Regions from separate parts of the Homo sapiens genome. Here region 1 is linked to region 2. Evidence: fine-mapped expression QTL. A gene starts in region 2. The other region holds a variant in brackets. All regions are shown on one strand. Distances are between the middles of the regions. Region 1 overlaps KIF3A (kinesin family member 3A). Region 2 holds the start of IL4 (interleukin 4).

The links. PIP is the estimated chance that this variant, and not a neighbour inherited with it, causes the effect.
Region 1: its variant is the best candidate, but not a certain one, in a credible set for the expression of IL4 in coronary artery (GTEx, PIP 0.58).

What each region holds. Positions count from the first base shown.
Region 1 is chr5:132,710,375-132,715,763 of GRCh38, reverse strand. KIF3A (kinesin family member 3A) reads left to right here. Exons shown (of 19, transcript NM_001300791.2): 8 at 1-7; 9 at 4,707-4,805. Among named protein-coding and RNA genes, the nearest start is that of KIF3A, 24 kb to the left of the region's middle. The variant T/C (reference allele first, on the strand shown) is at 2,394.
Region 2 is chr5:132,670,679-132,676,004 of GRCh38, reverse strand. IL4 (interleukin 4) reads right to left here and starts at 2,016. Exons shown (of 4, transcript NM_000589.4): 1 at 1,820-2,016; 2 at 1,499-1,546. The coding sequence starts at 1,954.

The DNA of each region.
Region 1 (5,389 bases), 40 kb before region 2:
GAAGAAGGTAGCTTTTCCTCAAAATATTAATCTTTATGTTGGCTAAAAATACATTGTTGAACCACTAACTGTTCTAACAAAAGCCCTCTATTAAACCTTTTTTGAGCCTCTAACATTGGTAGTTAAATGAATATTTCTAGAAAGTGACTTGGTACTTACATACTTTCGCATTTTCATATTAAGCTTAAGTAAAATTACATAATATTTGTGTATGTGGTTTTTTAAAAACATTTGCATGATGTTTTGTAGATTTCATATGACCACTTTTTAAGGAATGAATGTTTATTTGTCTCTGTATAAGAGCAAATTCTGCAATGTATGTATTTAGGTGAAAATGACCAGAATTCTGGCATTGCAATCAATATCAACTAACTATTGTTTGAAGTAAAGCAAGATATTAGACAGTCATGAGTAAACCAAGTTTGCTATAAGGAAAAATGCATTGCATGACCTTTAAAATATCCTTTCATACCTAAATTTGAACATGAGATTGTATTTTGGAAATTCTTTTCTAACAATATCATGCTAGAAAGTTGGAAAATTTGAAGATCTTATTTATGAGAGTGAGACGCTTCCCAGTCATTAAGTGCTGAGTGAGTCCTTGCACCTTAATGCGAGAAACAGATCCTTTCTGATTGGTACAGAGCTCCTTCGCGAACCACGTAAACAGGGCTTTGGTTTCAAAGCACCTTTGTAGTCTGTGAGAAGACTGACTAGATCAGAGGTGAAATTCAGAGACGCCAGCATCACAAATGTTTAGAGAGGGTACTTATTTAGTAAACAAGTAGTTATTGAGGAAAAGCAGTAAGAGAACTGTTAGATAATGAAATTTGGTGTTTTAAATGTGACCACTAGGTGGTATTTATAGCCAGTATGTTTTAAAGATTTTTAATTTCTTAGCGATGTTAACGGTGAGTGCATACTTTTATTTTGCTGACTTTATGTTTTACATTTTTTTGTTGTGGTAAAATATACATGACATAAAATTTATCATTGTAACCATTGTTAGTTAAGTGTACAGTTAGTGGCATCAAGTATATTCGCATTGTTGTGCAACTGTCACCACTATTCATTTCTAGAAATTTTTCATCATCCCAAACAGAAATGCTGTGCCCATTTAAGTAGTAACTTCCTATTCTTTTCTCCCCCAGTCTCTGGTAACCACTATTCTACTTTCGGTCTCTATGAATTTGACTATTCTAGGTACCTCATATAAGTAAAATCATGGAGTATCTACTTGTGACTGGCTTATTTCACTTAACAGAACGTTGAAGGTTCATCCATATTGTAGCAAGTGCCTGAATTTTATTCCTTTTTAAAAAATTGTGGTTAAACTTGCATAACATAAAGTTTACCATTTTAATCACATTTAAGTCTACATTTCTGTGGCATTACATTCACATTGTTCTGCAGTTATCCGTCTTCAGTTTTCTTCTTGCAAAATTGAAACTTTGTACTCATTAAAAACAGTATGTACCCATTCCTCCCTTCCCCTAGTTCCTGGCCAACAACCATTCTGCTTTGTCTATGAATTTGACTGCTCTGGGTATCTTACGAAAGCGGAATTGGTGGGGCGCAGTGGCTCACGCTTGTAATCCCAGCACTTTGTGAGGCCGAGGCGGGTGGATCAGTTGAGGTCAGGAGTTCGAGACCAGCCTGGCCAACACGGTGAAACCCCATCTTTACTGAAAATACAAAAATTAGCTGGGCATGGTGGCTCTCGCCTGTAATCCCAGCTACTTGGGAGGCTGAGGCAGGAGGATCACTTGAACCTGGAAGGTGGAGGTGGCAATGAGCCGAGATTATGCCACTGCACTCCAGCCTGGGTGGCAGAGTGAGACTCCCATCTCAAAAAAAAAAAAAAAAAAAAAAAAGAAAGTGAAATACAGCATTTGTCTTTTTGTGACTGGCTTATTTCATTTAGTATAATGCCTTCAAGGGTCATCCGTGTTGTAGAATGTATCAGGACTTCTTTTTAATTCTGAATAACATTCCATTGTGTATATACTACATTTTGTTATCCATTCATCCACCAATGGACAGTTGGTTCTTTCCACCTTTTGGCTATTGTGAATAATGCTGCTATGAACGTGGGTATACTAATACCTGTTTGAATTCTTGTTTTACCATTTTTGGGGTATGTACCCAGCAATGGAATTGCTGGATTCTATGATAATACTGTTGTTAATACATTTCAGTTCATTTTTGCTCTTATGACATTTCTTTTTATAATCTAGTTAATGGAGTTGATCATATCAACAATAAAAAAGTAGGCAATAGCATTAAAATAATAATTTTTAAACTTAAAAATTATTGTAGGCTATATGCAACTTGCAAACATGATATGGAGAGTTCCTATCTACCCTTCACCCAGCTTCACCTCATGTTAACAT[T/C]TTTTATAAGCATACAACAGTTATTGAAACCAGGAGATTTACATTGATATAGTCTTATTAACTAATCTGTGGACTTTATTCAAATTTGGCCAGTTTTCCTTCCAGTGCCTCTTTTTCCTGGTCCAGGATACAATCCAGGATCACACACTGCATTTATTTGTCATGCTTTCTTTGTTTTGTTGTTGTTGTTGTTGTTGTTGTTTGTTTTTTGTTTTGAGACAGAGTCTCGCTCTGTTGCCAGGCTGGAATTCAGTGGCACAGTCTCAGCTTACTGCAACCTCTGCCTCCCTGTTCAAGCGATTCTCCTGCCTCAACCTCCTGAGTAGCTGGGACTACAGGCACATGCCACCTCGCCCAGCTAATTTTCGTATTTTTAGTAGAGACAGGGTTTCACCATGTTTGCCAGGATGGTCTTTATCCTCTGACCTCGTGATCTGCCTGCCTCGGCATCTCAAAGTGCTGGGACTACAGGCGTGAGCCACCATGCCCGGCCATGTCATGCCTTTTTAATGACGATGTCTAGCACACTTGTTCTTCAGTCTAATTCCCCAGTCTTTCTTGATCTTGACATTTTTGAAGAGTACTGGTCATATATTTGTTGAATGTTCATTAATTTGGGTTTGTCTACTTTTCTTTTATAATGACCCTGCAAAGTTTCTCCACTGCAAATCTATTGTTTTATGTTTCCATTCGTAATTAACATGTATCTTGTGGGGGATACTTTGAGACTGCAAAGGTCCTGTTTCTTGTCATACTTTCTTCTACTATTTTTAGTATTCATCAATAGTTCTTGTCTGCAACAATAATCCTGTGGCATTTGCTCAATGTTATTTTCTATTCTCATCATTTCTTCCTTGTTTAGTGTTTAGGATTCTATTGTATGGAAGAACAGCCCCTTCATTCCCATTTGTTTATTTATTCAAGTATTTATCTTATTTAGATCATGGATTATAATCCAGTGTTATCATTATTTATTTTGTTCATTGAATTGTTCCAGCTTTGGCTATTATGAGATCCTTCAGAGTAGTTCCTGTATTCTTTCAGCATGTGCTCATCAGTTTTTTTGAGCATTTGATTACTTTTTGGCACTACAAAAGGTTTTAGGTTTATCTTGTGTCTTCCTTGCCCAATCTTAGAATCATTCACTTCTCTCTGGTCCCTTCTGTAGGAGAATGGTATTTAGAAACCCAGTTTTGGGCACTAGCTGTGCTCATTACTACCAAGATGTCATTGTTTCTAAGCCCGAAGAAAAAAATATTTTTCAGAAATTTCTTCTCCCAAGACTCTGTGTTCCTTTCCATCTTGTACTTACAGGTACAATTATTACCTGGTTGTGATTAGAGTATATTTTACTTTTTTCTCCTCTATTTTATTTTGTTAGACATTTCATATGTAAACAGTGGCATTTAAAAATAGCTAATTTGAAGATGATATAGTGCTGATCTGTTTTATTGGCTTCATCATTCCTTTTTTGTTTTTTATCTTTAAGTTAATGTGTAGTTAACACTGTCTTTGTACAAATAAGCACTTCTTTTTTTGAAAATATCTTGTGATACAGTCCTAAAAGTGGGATCATTGTTACATGACAGTTCTGTGTCTCTTAAAAATACAGATTGAATGAATTATTTGAAATCTTAAACAGGAAGCTGTTTTAGAAGAAATTGTTCCTCAAAAGTGATCACATTTTTAAAAGACTGAATTAGTAACTCTACCACATAATTTATATATATATTTAAAATTATACATAAAGAAATGATTTGAATATTTTTATTTTTTTTTTTGAGACAGAGTCACTCTGTTGTTGAGGCTGGAGTACAGTGGTGCCATCTCGGCTCACTGCAACCTCTGCCTCCTGGGTTCAAGTGATTCTCCTGCCTCAGCCTCCCAAGTAGCTGGGATTACAGGTGCATGCCACCAAGCCCAGCTAATTTTTGTATTTTTAGTAGAGATGGGGTTTTGCCATGTTGGCCAGGCTGGTCTCAAACTCTTGGCCTCAAGTGATCTGCCTGCCTCAGCCTCTTAAAGTGCTGGGATTACAGGCGTGCGCCACCTTGCCTAGCCAGAATGGTTTGAAATTTTAAGTGGGTCAGAATTTAACTTCTCTTTAGAGACTTTAAAAATAAAGTCTTTTTGGATATCTCATCTGTGTCTGAGATTGGCATATCTGTTATACTTTCTAGGAGCATTTAAATAGTATTTAAATTTGTTGTTTGCAGTAACAAAAATCTGAGGAAGAAAGCTGATATAGGTATTTCCTAAATAGCTAATGACTTCGTACAGGATAAAAAACATTGTATTAAATTTCTGTCCAAGGAGAAGAAATATCAGGCTCTGATATCAGTGGGTCAGAGGAAGATGATGATGAAGAGGGTGAGGTTGGAGAAGATGGAGAGAAAAGGAAAAAAAGAAGGGGTAAGTTCTGTTTAGTAATCTGATTTGTAGAAATTAGGTGGTTTCACAAGGTGGTAGAGTGCATGACTTTTATTTTGCCGTTATCTGTTTAATATATTAGATAACAATTAGAACAGAAGATGTATGCCATTTACCTGGTTAACTTTGCATTTTTTCTCCTGTATTGATCCGTTTATAGCTGACTTTGAATATATGTTCTGTTTTTTTAGAATTTAGAATTGTAAGACTCTATAATACTGGGTATGCCATTTTAAAATTTCCTGTGTGTTTTAATTTTATGTAGGGACTTACATCTGTGTTAGGAACCTAAGTTTTTTTGTTTGTTTGTTTGTTTGTTTGTTTTGAGACGGAGTCTCATTCTGTCGCCCAGGCTGGAGTGCAGTGGCGCGATCTCGGCTCACTGCAACCTCCACCTCCCAGGTTGAAGCGATTCTCCTGCCTCAGCCTCCCGAGTAGCTGGGACTATAGGCAAATGCCACCTCGCCCGGCTAATTTTTTGTATTTTTAGTAGAGACGGGGTTTCACCCTGTTAGCCAGGCTGGTCTTGATCTCCTGACCTCATGATCCATCTGCCTCGGCCTCCC
Region 2 (5,326 bases):
TGGCTTCTAGTAGGAGCCATCTCGGTTGGATGGACTTGGAGATTTTATACACACACACACACACACACACACACATATACATACACATATATACATACACACATATATATACACACACACATATATACACACACACACACACACACACACACACATAAACTGTTGCCCAGGTGCAGTGGCTAATCCCAGCACTTTGAGAGGCCGAGGTGGACGGATTGCTTGAGCCCAGAAGTTCGAGACAAGCCTGGGCAAAATGGCAAGACTCCATCTCTACAAAAAAATACAAAAATTAGCCAGGCGTGGTGGTGCACACCTGTCGTCCCGGCTACTTGGGAGGCTGAGGTAGGAAGATAGCTTGAGCCTGGGAGGTGGAGGCTGCTATGAGCTGAAATCGCACCACTGCACTCCAGCCTGGGTGACAGAACAAGACCCTATCTCAAAAAAAAAAAAAAGTGTGTATTTGCCCTTCAGAATCTCATCCTGTATCGGACTCCCGGGATAACTAATGAAATGAGATAGTCCAGCTAAAGGCCCGAAGAGCAGTTTCCCTCATGAAGCAGGATGGGCCCTGTTCTATGGTCTGGGTGCTGGAGTGTGACCCTGCCCAACACACAGGGCTTCACTCCTGGCCATATCATCTCCCTAGTTTGCATGGAAAGCAGGTAGTTAGGAGACCACTGTGAAATTGAGGCTTTGGGGCTTTCATTCTCAGCCGTGTGTTTCCATGAAAACAGGAACTGAAATGCACAAAACTATTGATACGGCTGTAGTCATGTGTTTGTCAGAGAAAATGCACTATCAGCTGTCAAATCTATCTCCTCCCACTACAGATAGAGGGGTGGGGGTGAGGCAGCACAGGAGGCAGAGAGGCGAGGTGCCCAGGCAGCCCGAAGCAGGGATGTGCTGGACGCTGCCCAGCAGGATGGTTCCAGACCGAGCTGGAGGGGAGTTCGGCCGGCCAGAGCAAGCTGAGGAGCTCTGGACGGCCAGCCCCGGAACCCAGAGGGCTGTTAGGTGGCCAGGCTGTGGAAGAGGAGGGGCTCTGGCGATACCTTTTCTGTTGCCATAGGAAGTCTCTTAGACAAAATGAAAGCTCCCTCAACCTGTCATCTCAATATCTGTTTCTGTGAGAGTATTTGGTTTTTCAGAAATGTATGGGCCAGAAAAATTCTCTCATTCAACAGGCATTTATTGAGTGCCTCCTACGTTCCAGGCACTATGCCAAAGCTAAGTAAAACCCAAGAGGGCTTTTCTTTGACCAGGATCTGAGTCAGGACTACAGCATGTAAGCTTTCTATTACATGTCTTCTAAATCAAGTGAAACCAGAAAGACCAAAACATGCTTAAGAGTAAAGATCAGACTTCTCGTTCTTTGAAAACATCTAACACCTTAGAGTTAATTTGGGCCCGCTCGTTTTCCATTAGACAAGTTTCTTGTTCAGACATTTGGGGATGGATCTCCCCATTTGCTAAAACAGACCGTGGGACGGCTTCTTACCTTGGAGGCAGCAAAGATGTCTGTTACGGTCAACTCGGTGCACAGAGTCTTGGTCCAGGCAGAAATGAGAGAGCAAGAGACAGAGTTAACCTCCAACCGGACAGAGAAGTCCTTGATGAGCAGCTCTCACTCCCTCCAACTGAGGAAACTTCCTACAAACCCTCAGAAAAAAGAGTGGCAGGGGAGAAGCCTCGCTGTGTGCCCTGGACTGCCACCAACCACCAGTTCCAACTTCTCTAGCAGCTGTTAACGTTTTCATGCCTAGAAATACTGAGAGCATCACCAGAACATCTGGAGAGATGGTGCCAGATAGGTACTCACCTTCTGCTCTGTGAGGCTGTTCAAAGTTTTGATGATCTCCTGTAAGGTGATATCGCACTTGTGTCCGTGGACAAAGTTGCCGGCACATGCTAGCAGGAAGAACAGAGGGGGAAGCAGTTGGGAGGTGAGACCCATTAATAGGTGTCGATTTGCAGTGACAATGTGAGGCAATTAGTTTATCAGGAGAAGCTAACGATGCAATGCTGACAAAGATATCTCTATATATAGATTTAAAATTGCTGAAACCGAGGGAAAATGAGTTTACATTGGAAATTTTCGTTACACCAGATTGTCAGTCACTTGGGGCCAATCAGCACCTCTCTTCCAGGAGAAAAAATGCCTCACAAACAGGTAAAATGTTCCTGTGAAATCAGACCAATAGGAAAATGAAACCTTTTTAAAAAATTAACTACAAAGTTTCAGCATAGGAAATTACACCATAATTTGCTCTTTAGATTAATCTTATCAGCTTGGGGCTGCTGCTGGCTTTTTGCTTTGCATAGAAGGGAGAGGCCACAGGTGTCCGAATTTGTTGTAATGCAGTCCTCCTGGGGAAAGATAGAGTAATATCAAGAAAGTTTTACTTGAAAAGTATTTTAACCTGGCTTCTTCCAAGTACAGGTGGCATCTTGGAAACTGTCCTGTCATGGAAAAGCTGATCTGGGGCTCCTTCTCTGCATAGAGGCAGAATAACAGGCAGACTCTCCTACCCCAGCACTGGGGGACAATGTTCTCCCAAGTTTAGGTGTTTTGAGAAGGACAGGTCGTATCAGGTGAGGCCTAGTTTGGGTCCCAGCAGGTCCATAAGGTCCTTACCCATAAGGAAGCCCTTGGCAAGGTAGGTCTATTCTGAGGTTTCAGGAATGACTTTTTTTTTTTTTTTTCTGAGACAGGGTCTCACTCTGTCACCCAGGCTGAAATGCAATGTTGTGATCAGGGATCACTGCAGCCTCAACCTCCCAGGCTCAAGTGATCCTCCCACCTCAGCCCCCCTAGCAGTAGGTGCGTGCCACCGCACCATGCCTGGCTCATTTTTATTTTTATTTTTTGATAGAGATAAGAGTCTCACTATGTTGCCTAGGCTCATCTCAAATTCCTGGGCTCAAGTGATCCTCCTACCTCAGTCTCCCAAAGCTCTGAGATTACAGGTGTGAGCCACCATGCCTGGCCAGGAATGCCCACTTTTTGAATGGAACCTAAACACATCCTCAGCTAATTAGGAAAAAGAGCTACAGTCTTACCAACTTACAAATCAGCCCTCCTAGTCAGTGCCCCACCACCCGCCCTGCTTGTTTTTTATTGAATTCATGTGGACACAATAAGGTGCTCATTGCCTCACCCCAGCAGTGAACGTAAGGACCCCACCACTCACTCAGGTGCCTGGGCCCTGTGCAAGGCCACCCCACCTCCCAGTAAGGGCTCATGGGCAGCAGGATTCTTGGGCCCTGCCTGCCCCCTGCTTTTCTCCCAGAACCTTCCCTTCCCTTGGTCTCTGACCTTCTTTTCCCTATGAATTTCTTTTTTTTTTTTTTTTTTTTGAGATGGAATCTTGCTCTGTCACCCAGGCTGGAGTGCAGTGGCGTGATCTTAGTTCACTGCAAGCTCCGCCTCCTGGGTTCATGCCGTTCTCCTGCCTCAGCCTCCCCGAGTAGCTGGGACTACAGGCACCTGCCACCACGCCCGGCTAATTTTTTGTATTTTTAGTAGAGACGGGGTTTCACCGTGTTAGCCAGGATGGTCTCCATCTCCTGACCTCGTGATCCGCCTGCCTCGGCCTCCCAAAGTGCTGGGATTACAGGCGTGAGCCACTGTGCCTGGGCCTCCCTATGAATTTATTCTGGAAGATCATCTAAAAATGTGTGTTGCTAAGGTTTTGCCTCTGTTCCACTTCCCCGCCCCCCCCTCACCACCCCCTGCCCCCATACTCTGTCACCCAGGCTGGAGTGCAGTGGTGATCATAGCTTACTGTAGCCTTGATCTCCTGGGCTCAAGGCATTCTCCAGCCTCAGCTTCCCGAGTAGCTGGGATTACAGGCACATGCCACCACGCCTGGCTAATTTCTGTATTTTTTTTTTTTTTTTAGTAGAGATGGGGTTTCACCATGTTGGCTAGGCTGGTGTCGAACTCCTGGCCTCAAAATGATCCACCCACCTCAGCCTCCCAAAGTGCTGGGATTATAGGCGTGAACCACCATGCCCGGCCAAGGTTTTGCCTCTGTTTTGGATCTTTTCTTCCCTTATTATTATTATTATTAAATTGACAAATAAGTATTGCACATATTTGTGCTGTATGATATAATGTTTTGAAATGTGCATGTTATGGAATTGCTACATCAAGCTACTTATACAATACTTCACATATTTATTTTTGGTAAGAACATTTAAAATCTACTCTGTGATTTATTTATTTATTTTGAGATAGAGTCTTGCTCTGTTGCCCAGACTGGAGTGCAATGGCGCAGTCTCAGCTCACTGCAACCTCTGCCTCCTGAGCTCAAGCAATTCTCCTGCCTCAGCCTCCCGAGTAGCTGGGATTACAGGTGCCTGCCACCACGCCCAGCTAATTTTTGTATTTTTAATAGAGACAGGGTTTTACCATGTTGGCCAGGCTGGTCTCGAACTCCTGACCTCAGGTGATCTACCCACCTCAGCCCCTGCAAAGTGCTGGGATTACAGGTGTGAGCCACTGCGCCTGGCCTGTCTTCATGATTTTTAAGTATACAAGACATTGATATCAACTGTTGTCACCATGTCGTACAATGGCTCTCTTTAACTTAACTCCTCCCAGTTGAAATTTTATATCCTTTGACCAACATCTTCCTGATCACCACCCTCCCAGCCCCTGGTGACCATCATCCTACTCTCTGCCTCCCTGAGTTTGGCTTTTTTATATTTCACATATGCGTGAGATCATGTGGTATTTGTCTGTCTGTGCCTGGATTTTTTCACTTAGCATAATGTCCTCCAGGTTCATCCATGTTGTGGTGAATGACAGCGTTTCCTTCTTTTTTAAGGCTGTATAGTATTCCACTGTCTATATATAGTTTTGGATCTTATCGCAGTGCCTCAAGTTCTGTGAAGGAGAGAATCTGGATAATTGTATCAGGAGGTCCTTAGACCATATTTAGGATCCTTCCATTGGGACTGGGCAGCAAGGTTACCAAACTAAATGCAGTGGCTTCAGATGCCAAACCACCTGAGATGAGCCACACCTCACAGGTGAGGGGTATGGTCCCCCACAACACTGCCCTTGCTTCAGACGCCAGCTGCACATTCAGGGGTTCCCAGCCCACCCTCACTGCTGACTGGCTGCAAATCTGGGAGTTTCCACTACCCCTCAGGTTCCAGAATGCACTAGGATGACTGACAGAACTCAGGAGAGTGCTATACGTAAGGCCACAGTTTTATCATAACAAAAGCATTCAAATCAGAACCAGCCAAAAGAGGAGACACAGGGGCGAGATGGAGGAGGGGCCCAAACACAAAGCTCTCATTGTCTTCCCCGTGT